Linked DNA regions of Homo sapiens: region 1 is linked to region 2. Evidence: fine-mapped expression QTL. A gene starts in region 2. The other region holds a variant in brackets. All regions are shown on one strand. Distances are from middle to middle.

Region 1 (5,381 bases), 41 kb after region 2:
CTCTGTCCACTTTGAGGACCTAGAAGCAGTGACATCCCAGTACCAGTGAGCAACCTAGTACCCAGATTTTGGTTTCTAAATACCATTCTCTAATAAAAGGGACCTTGGAAAGCTTTGGAGAAGTGTTTTATTCTAGTACTGGGTCAGCAGAAACATAAGATGAGCTTAGAATATTTTGTGGTGTCAGAAAGTAGGCAAATACTTTTAAAAAGAAAGACAAAAAAAAAAAAAAAGAAAGATGGCGCATGTCAAAAGGGTACAGGAGCCAACCCGAAAGATCTCACAATGGCCAAAGCTGTAATAATGAGCTACAAAATAACAGTAATATTGGATTATGGCCCAGAGCTTAAAAAATACCCATGAGCCTGTACTGATAGGAATAAATGATTGAGCAAATAAATAGGAGAGAAAGAACAACTCTTCCTTATAGAAGTATTACAGATAATAAATGTGGAAGGAAGGAGGGCAATAGAAAATCACCATGGGAACACCACTGTAACACTTGCCTCAGTGAGACTCACCAATGAATGCAAAGTTAATGGGCAGAACCTTAATAAATATTTACCCAAAAACTTCTCCCAAAGGATATTTTATTTTGTATATTTATTTATTTATTTATTTATTTATTTTGAGACAGAGTCTCGCTTTGTCACCCAGGCTGGAGTGCAGTGGTGCGATCTCGGCTCACTGCAACCTCTGCCTCCCGGGTTCAAGTGATTCTCCTGCCTCAGCCTCCCAAGTAGCTAGGACTACAGGCACCCACCACCACACTTGGCTAATTTTTGTATTTTTTAGTAGAGATGGGGTTTCACCATATTGGCTAGGCTGCTCTTGAACTCTTGACCTTGTGATCCACCTGCCTCAGCCTCCCAAAGTGCTGGGATTACAGGCATGAGCCACCATGCCCAGCCCAAATAATATTAAAAAGAAAAATAGTGACTTTATAATGGAGAAACCCAGCAGACATCCCCTCATGTAAGTGATGAAGGTTACCATCACCAGTAATCAGATACTGTGTCCTCTCTGCATAACGATGCACTGAATGGGCATATCACTTCATTGCCCCCTACATTCACAAGCACATCTAATTATGGGAAAACTTAAGATAATCCCAAAATGATGTGCATTCTTCAAAATACCTGACCAAGATTTCCCAAGTGTCAGGGTCATGAAAGACAAGGAAAGACAGCGCTGTCACAGGTCAGAGGAGCCTACAGAGATACAGCACAGCTCCATGCAGTGTGGGTTCCTGGATCAGATCTTGGACCAGCATAAGGACATAAGCAAAACAGCCAGGGAAACAGAGTGAAGTCTGTAGTTTAGTTAATAGTGTTGTGTCAATGTCAGCTTGTTAGTTTTGATCATTATACTGTGACGATGTAGATATTAATATCAGGAAGCTGTGTGAGGGGTATGTGGGAACTCTGTTCTCTCTGTGCAGCTCTTCTATACGTCTAGAATTATTTTAATGTAAAAAGCCTTTGTTTTAAAGCTAACCAATGAGAAAAAGGGAAGAATACGTGTTCTTTGGTGTAGATGAAGGAGCATCAAGAGCAGAAAGAGACTTTGTGCCTCCCTAAGCCAGACTTTCATTTTACAGCTGGTTAACTGAGGCCCAGAGAGCTCGGGGGGCTTGGCCAAAGCCACAATGCAAGTAGCTGGAGGGCAGGACTGGGATTGGGGGAGCGGGGCGGGGTGGGGAGCGGGGTGGTTCCTGACTCATAATATGCAGCTATTTGATCTTATCCTATCTCTGCTCCAGGGTTGCATTTTCCTCTAATTGTTCTGATAATGATATTTCTGCTTTCCATGTTTTTAAAAGTAGATTTCATAGTCTTGGTTAAACATCATGTTGAATCAAATACCACCCATGTTCCCTGTTGTGGGTGTCTTGTTTTCCTCATTTCTACCCTACAGGTGATGGCTTATGTATTTGTCTTACTCTGTTCAGCAGAAATTGGAGACCAGCAAAAGGCCTCCATCTGGAACTTCCACTACCTCCAAGAGCACCTCTCCAACCCTCACGCCCTCCCCCTCACCCAAAGGGCACACTGCAGAGTCCTCAGTGTCTTCCTCGTCATCCCATCGGCAGTCCAAGAGCAGTGGGGGCTCCAGCAGTGGCACCATCACAGATGAGGGTGAGTCCCCTGAGGGCCTGAAACCCCACCTATTCCTCTCACCATGATGACCTGGCAGCAAGGAACTGCAAGGTGACCTTAATTGCTATAACCATCCTAGGTCAGGTTTTAAGAAGATTTACGACAAACATGTCCCTCCTCTTCTCTGATTGTACCTTGTATTTTTGTCTTCACTATGCTAAAGGTATGGTAAGCTCCCTCAAAGAGTTTTTGAGTATAGGTGATTTTTGTTTACATGCACAAACATACACCCATGGAAGTGCTTCTCCAACACGAACTTACTTTCCCTGGACCCTGTACCTGTCAGGATTCTTTCAGTTGTGAGTGAGAGAAACTCCACTCACACTGGTTCAAGGGAAAAAAATGAAACCTGACATTTCATTGGCTCATATGATGGGAGTGTCTAGGGTGTGCTTCAACCATGCCTGAAT[T/C]CAGGTGCTTTGGGAGTGTTTCCAGGTCTCAGGTAGGTTCTCTCCAAGTGGTGGCAAGCAGCTTCAGGCATACTTTTGTCTTCCCACCAATTTTTCAACTCCAGCAGAACGAGTGCTACTTTCTCAGTAGGTCCAGCAAAATCCCAAGTGTAAAGGCCATTGGCTTGGCTGTATTTATAATGACCTAGGTCAGTTGCCCTCCCTTGACTATCTCTGTGTCCACAGGGGTGGAATGTGGTGATTGGCCATGCCCCTTCGGTCAGTTGTCTGCTTTGGAGCGGAGTTGGGGTCCAACCTACTGACATATGTGTATTGGAAGTGGGAGAGAAATAGTTCCTCAAAGGAAAATTTGGAAATACTGTTTCCAGGAGAAGGGGGATGGGTGAGGGCAAGCAAAAGCAGTTGATGTCTGCTGCAACCAGGAGAGCCTTGGAACCTGCCTTGTGAATTACAGCCTCTGCAGCCCCCATGCGGGAATGATGAGGGAAGATGGAGTGGGTGGTAGGGCAGGAGCAGAGGCTTTGCAGTCAGGCCCCAGGAAAGATAAAGGCAGATGAAGAAAGGAATCCCATCCTTTTAAACTGCCCTCTAGAGGCCTGTAGGAGCTGGGATGGGGGAAAGAGGGAGGAAGCTTTGGTGAGACCTGGGGTCCAGGCAGGTGCAAATCGAGGAGTATAAGTCAGCAGGGAGGAAAATCTGATTGTGTTCGTGGCCCTCACAAATGCGTTTGCGGGCAGTTCGCTGCAGCTGCTGAGGAGTAGGGTGCTGAGCAGGTTCTGCTGAGCAAGATAAGTTGGAATCACTTGCACAGGCTCTAGTCTGTACTAAGTTGATAAATGCATGCTGCCACTGGTGTCCTCCTTATTTGGGGGCTGCTTTTATTGTTTTGTGATATCCAGTGTGATCATTTATCAAGGCCTCAGAGATTCACCAGCAAACTCATTCCTCCCCAACCATATTTTCTATGTGGAGTCTTGAGTTCCACACTCGTGAATTCTCCCACCTCTGAGGTTTTCAGGAATTGAAGCCCCTAGAGATTCAGTTAGGTATTTGTGCCCCATTGTTTTCCAAAAAAGAGTGGAGACAGTGGATGTCTGTATGGACTGTTTGTACCCACTCTCTTTCCCTCTTGTTCATTATTAAAAATGGTTTGCAGAGTCCTAATTGGGATGAAAAAAGAAGAGGGCCAATAGCACTTTCTTTGTAGAATAATTTCTCTGGTTCATAAAGCTTAGTTTTCCTGTTGAGAGTTCCTGGGTCCTGAGGCAGCGAGCCCTTTGTCCTGTGGGTATATGATTGTTATAGGCCGGGGGCTGCAATCCATCCCCGAAGAGCTTTTTTTTTTTTGAGACGGAGGCTTGCTCTGTCACCCATGCTGGAGTGCAGTGGCGCGATCTCGGCTCACTGCAAGCTCCTCCTCCCGGGTTCACACCATTCTCCTGCCTCAGCCTGCCAAGTAGCTGGGACCTCAGGTGCCCGCCACCACGCCTGGCTAATTATTTTGTATTATTAGTAGAGACGGGGTTTCACCGTGTTAGCCAGGATGGTCTCGATCTCCTGACCTCGTGATCCGCCCGCCTCGGCCTCCCAAAGTGCTTGGATTACAGGTGTGAGCCACCACGCCCGGCCCCCAAAGAGCTATTTTTATTATATTCTTCTGGGAAATATTTGGTCCCAGTCAAGGACACGTGAGCTTTTCCCTGCCTCATGTCTCCATCTGCATTCCTCCTCTCTGGACTCCACCTGTTGAAGCAGCAAGGCTGGTGACAGCATCACCTTCTCAGCCTCACATTTGTTCCAGGAAATTTTCTTGGGCAGTCCCCTGGATGCCCTAACCTATGCACCCAGGGGAACTCACAGGGATACAGACACATTCAACATAATGACATTAGAGTGTAACACAAGGTGAGGTCATACCTGTTATCAGCAAAGCACCATGTGCCATGGTAGGCTCCCCTGGTGAGCGGGCACTCCAGCTGGACCACGACACTGGGAAGAGATGGGCAGTGGGGTGCCAGAGCCGACTGTTCAGTTTATAGGACATGCCCAAGCTGGTTGTTAAACACAACCATTATTTACAAATTACATGAACTTCGAATTAACTGAATTATAGAAATATAACAGTATATTGTACTTAAAATGTATTTTTTACTCATTTTTGTATATTTTATTATCTGTGCTCTTGAGGTTGTGTATATCTCATACCTGCAGTGTGAATACCCCGTAATGATGTGTTCCTACTGCGCATCTCTGCTCAGCTTCACTTTCAGGGGCATTAGATTGGTAGGTTGAAATTGGCTATGATGGGGGTATTTACACCATGGAAATTGGCAAACACCATCAATCAGGGCTTGCTTTTTTTTTTTTTGAGATAGGGTCTTACTCTGTCACCCAGGCTGGGGTACAGTGGTGTGATCACAGCTCACTGCAGCCTCAACCTCCCTGGTCTCAAGCAATCCGGGGCTTGATTTGTTGTCTTATAGATATTGTCTACATGTAATCTAGGCAGTGATGGGAAAATGTTAACAATGAGGATTAAACTTAAAAGTAGGTTGTATCTGTAACCGTTATCTTGTGAGTAGCACAAAAAATTGAGAAAATACTCTTCCAGTATTTGAAAACCATTATCTGATTCAGCCAAGTTGCTCACCTGAAGTTCCAACGTAAGTCTTTGTTGTTTCTTTTTTATGTTTCTTGTTCATGTAAACAAAACTCTCAGCCAGTGTTCATGTTGGAACCATACTCCTTGGCTGTGGGTACAAGAGTAGGGCAAAAACAAATGAAAGCATTTGGTGAGAATCAATTGGCTATA
Region 2 (5,381 bases):
TCCTACAGGGTGCAGCTGCGGCATGAGATTTGGGTCATTGTTCCTGGCTTTGGGGCCTCCAGAACTGGTTCTCAGGCTCTCATGGATCTGTGAGCTACAGAAGAACCTTGTACTAAATCCTGCAGCTTTTCCAGCACCTAAAACAGTGTCTGGAAATGGCAGGCACTCAATACATATTTGTTGAAAATGGAAAGAGAGTTGGACTCGATGTCAGAAGACCTGAGTCCTACTCACAGCTCTCCTGCAGAATAGTTGTGGAGTCTTTGGCAAGACACAACCTCTTTGTGCCTCGGTTGCCTCCTCTGCAACCTAGGGATGATCATCTGGGCCCTCCCCGGTGGATGGCAGGCGTGCAATGAAGATCAAACGTGGGTCTCCAACTTTAGCATGCATCAGAATCACCCAGAGGGCTTGTTAAAATATAGGTTGCTGAACCCACACCCAGAATTTCTGATTCAGTAGATCTTGGGTAGGGCCAGAAAAATCTGCGTTTGTAACAGTGTTGCAGCTGGTGATGGTGCTACTGCTGTGTGGGACACACTTCAAGGACCGCTGATAAAGAGAGAGAAGGTATTTCATTTTCTTTGTGACCATTGTAAATGAGGTTGTGTTCTTAATTTTGTTCTCAGCTAGAATGTTATTGGCATATCAAACTGCTATTGCTTTTTATACATTGATTTTCTGTCCTGAAACTTTACTGAATTTGTTTATCATTTCCAGGAGCCTTTTGGCAAACTCTGTAGGGTTTTCTATGTATAGATTCATACTCTCCGCAAAGACAGAGTGTTCGACTTTTTCTTTTCCTATTTGAATGCCTTTTATTTCTTTCTCTTACCTGGTTGTCTGGCTAGGACTTCCAGTACTATGTTGAATAGGAGTGGTGAGAGTCTTCTTCCAGCTTTTGCCTGTTTAATATGATGTTGGCTATGGGTTTGTCATAGATGGCTGTTATTATTTTGAGGTATGTTCCTTCAATGCCTAATCTGTTTTGAAGATTTTTATTATAAAGGGATGTTGGATTTTATTGAAGGCCTTTTCTGCATCTATTGAGATGATTATATGGTTTTTGTTTTTGATTCTGTTTATATGGTGAATCACATGTATTGATTTGCGCATGTTGAGCCAACCTTGCATTCCAGAAATAAAGCCTACTTGATCATGGTGAATTGACTTTTTGATGTGCTGCTGGATTCTGTTTGTAGTATGTCATTGAGGATTTTTGCAGCTATGTTTTTCAGGAATATTGGCCTGAAGTTTTCTTTTTTTCGTTGTGTCTCTGCAAAGGGCATGAACAGACACTTCTCAAAAGAAGACATACAGGCAGCCAACAAACATATGAAACAAATGCGCAACATCATTAATCATCAGAGAAATGCAAATCAAAACCACAATGAGATATCATCTACACCAGTCAGAATGTCAATTATTAAAAAGTCAAAAAACAATAGGTGCTGCTAAGGCTGTGGAGAAAATACACTGTTGGTGGGAATGCAAACTAGTTCAGCCACCGTGGAAAGCAGTTTGGAGATTTCTCAAAGAACTTAAAATAGAACTATTTGACCCAGCAAACCTACTACCAGGTATATACCCAAAGGAAAATAATTCATTCTATCAAAAAGACACCTGTATATTCATTGCAGTGCCATTTACAATAGCAAGGGTATGGAATCAACCTAAGTGCCCATCAACAGTAGATTGGATAAAGAACATGTGGTACAGAGCCAGATGTGATGGCTCACACCTGTAATCCTGGCACTTTGGGAGGCCACAGCAGGTGAATCACTTGAGCTCAGGACTTTGAGACCAGCCGGACAACATGGTAAAACCCTTTCTCAACCAAAAATACAAAAAATTAGCCGGGTGTGGTGGCACTTGCCTGCAGTCCTAGCTACTCGGTAGGCTGAGGTGGGAGGATTGCTTGAGCCTGGGAGGCAGAGGTTGTGGTGAGTAGAGATTGCACCATTGCACTCCAGCCTGGATGACAGAGCAAGACCCTGTCAAAAGAGAGAGAGAGAGAGAGAGAGAGAGGGAGAAAGGGAGGGAGGGAGGGAGGAAGGAAGGGGGATAGGGAGGGAGGGAGGGAAGAGAGGGAAGGAATGAAAGAAATGTGGTGCATATACACGATAGAATATGATGGAATACTACGGAATACTATGCAGCCATAAGAATGAACGAAATCATGCCCTTTGCAGCAACATGGATAAAGCTGGAGGCCATTATCCTAAGCGACCTAAAAAGAACAGAAAACCAAATACTGCATGTTCTCACTTATAAGTGGGAGCTAAACATTGAGTACACATGGACACAAAGATGGGAACAACAAACGCTGGGGATCGCTAGGCCAGGGAGGGATGGAGGGGACTCTGGGCTGAAGAACCTCTTGGTGGGTATTATGCTTACTGCCTGGGTGACGGGATCGTTGGGACCACAAGCTTCAGCGTCGCGCAATTTACCCATGTAACAATTTACCCATGTAACAAACCTGTACCCTTTAATCTATAATAATAGTTGAAATAAAAGGTGGGGGAGAGAGAGAGAACAGGAGGCGCTTTTAGCCCCAGCAGCCTGGCCCAGATGAAGGAGCGACATTAAGGGCACCGCAGGACACTGTGAGGAAACAATCCGTTCGTTCCTTAATTCAGCCGCTTCCTTATTCTAGAAGGGCAGGTTCAGTGCCAGGGGCTGCGGTGGGGTCAGCGGAGCCCGCTAGTAAAGTCAAGGCCCACGCAGCTGCGGACTCAGACCCGGGCCCAGGGCCCTGACCACAGCGTGAAGAGGGGATGGCGTGGCCGCTCCCACCTCTGCCCTGACAGGAAGTTTCTGGAGCCCCGGGACAGGGCGGCGAGAGGGCGCCGAAGAGGCAAAAGGGAACACGCGGGTCTGCGGCGGGCGCTCCTCTGAGCGTCCCTGGACTCCCGAATACGGGCACTGGAGGTGCGCAGCCCCGGCCCTAGCGCGCTCCCGGCACACAGCAGGCGCGCGGCCCTAGCCCCGGCGCGCTCCCGGCACACAGTAGGCGCGCGGCGCGGGCGGGTGGCCGGAAGGGGGCGCCTGCGGGCGGTATCCGGGGGCGGAGCCGACGCGGCCGGCGGGGCGGACGGGAGCGGGCCGCGCGTGGCGGCGGCGATGGGCGAGGGCGGGCTGCCCCCGGCCTTCCAGCTGCTGCTGCGCGCGTGTGACCAGGGCGACACGGAGACGGCGCGGCGGCTGCTGGAGCCGGGGGCGGCGGAGCCAGCCGAGCGCGGCGCGGAGCCGGAGGCGGGCGCGGAGCCGGCGGGGGCCGAGGTGGCCGGGCCCGGGGCCGCAGCGGCGGGGGCAGTCGGGGCTCCGGTGCCCGTGGATTGCTCGGACGAGGCGGGCAACACCGCACTGCAGTTCGCCGCGGCCGGGGGCCACGAACCGCTGGTGCGCTTCCTGCTGCGCCGCGGTGCCTCGGTCAACAGCCGCAACCACTACGGCTGGAGCGCGCTCATGCAGGCGGCCAGGTGAGGCGGCGGGGCCCGGGGGCCCGGGACCAGAGTGGTGCCCGGCGCTGGCCCGAGACGCGGTCCCCGGCGGCCGGATGCCCCGGGAGGTGAAGAGTTAAGGACTCCTTAGAGTTGGAATGGTAAACTTTGAGTAGTCTTTTGTAAACTTTGAGCATAGACGTGGAAACACTTTTGAATTAACATAAAATCAGATTCTTAGAAATTTTGGCCTTTCAGAATAGAATCTGGAGACAGCGAATAGAATTGTAGAGACTTAGAACCTTAGAGATTTAATTCATTTCTTATTGCAGTAAGAGTTTCCTCAGAACCTGCCTTCCCTTCCTGGCTTGGCGTTGAGGGTGCTGCGAGACCCAGGCAGAGTCCCCACCCAGGGCATTGGTGGGCAGGCCAGGCAAAGGAACGAGCTTGACCGGAAAGGTTTGAGTAGCTGTGGGGCAGGTGACCCATTTTGGAGACGTGGGGGAAGGTTTCTGGTAGAAAAGATGTTTATATCCACGTGGAGACCTGCGGATACCTGAGAATTAGCCAGGACATTACAAGTGGGCTGTGGGAAGGCATGATGGGAGGCCCATGCAAAGGCTTGGGTGCACGAGCTGGTAGGACTGGTAGAATGAGGTATGCGTAGAATGTATGAGTAGAATGATGTACTAGTCCTCCCTGGAGAGAAGGCAGATGCCAGGGAGTTGGGGGAGTGTGGGAGCTGAGAAACGCTAGCTATCCTAGGGTGCTAGGGAGTCATGGAAGGTGCTAGGGAGTCATGGAAGGTTCTAGGCAGAATGAGTGACAGGATGAGAGTTACGTTTTGGAAAAATTACTTTCCTTGAAGTGTGAGAATAGATTAGATACTCTAGGGTAAGCTAGAGTCAAAAAGGCTGGTTAGGTAGAGTTTGCTGCAGTCTGAGTGAGAGGTGATGGTGGCCTAGACCAGAATGGAGACAGCGGAGGGAGGGCACCCAGATGAATTTGTGATATATTCAGGGAGTAGATCAGCAGGAGTTGACGACTGGCCCTTGGGGAGGGGTTAAGAGAGACAGCAAGGATGGCATCTAGAGATCTGGCTTCTGTGAAGCCTGCCATGATATCTCCCTGTTCTCTGGTCCCTCCGCAGCAGAAAGGCCTCTGTGGTAGCATCCATCACACCATGTTAATGCTGACTGGCTTCCTCAGTACCCAAACCTGGCCACACATCAGAATCACCAGGATGCTTGTCTAAGTGCAGATTCCTGAGTTCCTTTTCTGGAGATTGTGATTTAGAAGGCCCAGGGCAGTGAGGGGAGTAAGAGACAGGGACTCTGTGTGAGAAGAGGCTCCCCAGTGATTCTCTTGTATGGTAGGTTTGGGAGCCACTGATGTGTTATGTGTGTCTCATCTCTGCAATCCACCAAGTGCGTGCACAGGGGCCCTGGTGAGCCCCCTGAGGAATTTACTGAGTGAGGTTTGTGACTACAGCACTGACATGCCTCAGAGTGTCTCAGAGACCCCAGATCATCAGTTTTAACCAAGTTCTGCAGGATAGTCTTGAGCCTGGGTATTTTAAAATGTGCTGTTCCTCAGTTGGTGTGACACCGACTCTATATTCAGGTAGCATCTCTGCCTGTGTTGAGTTGTGCTCCAGCTTTCTGCTGCGTAATTCATAAGAAAAGGTCAAGTTGAGGAGTAGTATATATGGAAGACTTCCAGAAGGATGTACAGTGTGTCTGTCCCTCACATCGGGGTAGGCAAATGAATGGCCTGTGTGCTGACACCTTCCAGCCTTGTGCTCTTCTTCCTTGGATCTGGATACGCCCCCAGAATCCTGCTCAAAACCACACCCCTGGCAGCCACCACGCTGGGTCTGAGCAAGCATCTATTTATCGTCCCAGCTCTCTGTGTGGATCAGGCCAGACTATTAGA

What was found.
Region 1: its variant is fine-mapped to the expression of ANKS6 in whole blood (TOPMed, PIP 0.96).

Annotation. Positions count from the first base shown.
Region 1 is chr9:98,753,177-98,758,557 of GRCh38, reverse strand. It overlaps ANKS6 (ankyrin repeat and sterile alpha motif domain containing 6), which reads left to right. Exons shown (of 15, transcript NM_173551.5): 12 at 1,955-2,138. Among named protein-coding and RNA genes, the nearest start is that of ANKS6, 41 kb to the left of the region's middle. The variant T/C (reference allele first, on the strand shown) is at 2,570.
Region 2 is chr9:98,794,237-98,799,617 of GRCh38, reverse strand. ANKS6 (ankyrin repeat and sterile alpha motif domain containing 6) reads left to right here and starts at 3,063. Exons shown (of 15, transcript NM_173551.5): 1 at 3,063-3,485. The coding sequence starts at 3,127. LOC124902229 (a long non-coding RNA gene) reads left to right here. Exons shown (of 2, transcript XR_007061689.1): 2 at 9-1,170. RefSeq lists enhancers at 2,799-3,299, 3,300-3,800 and a silencer at 2,921-3,540.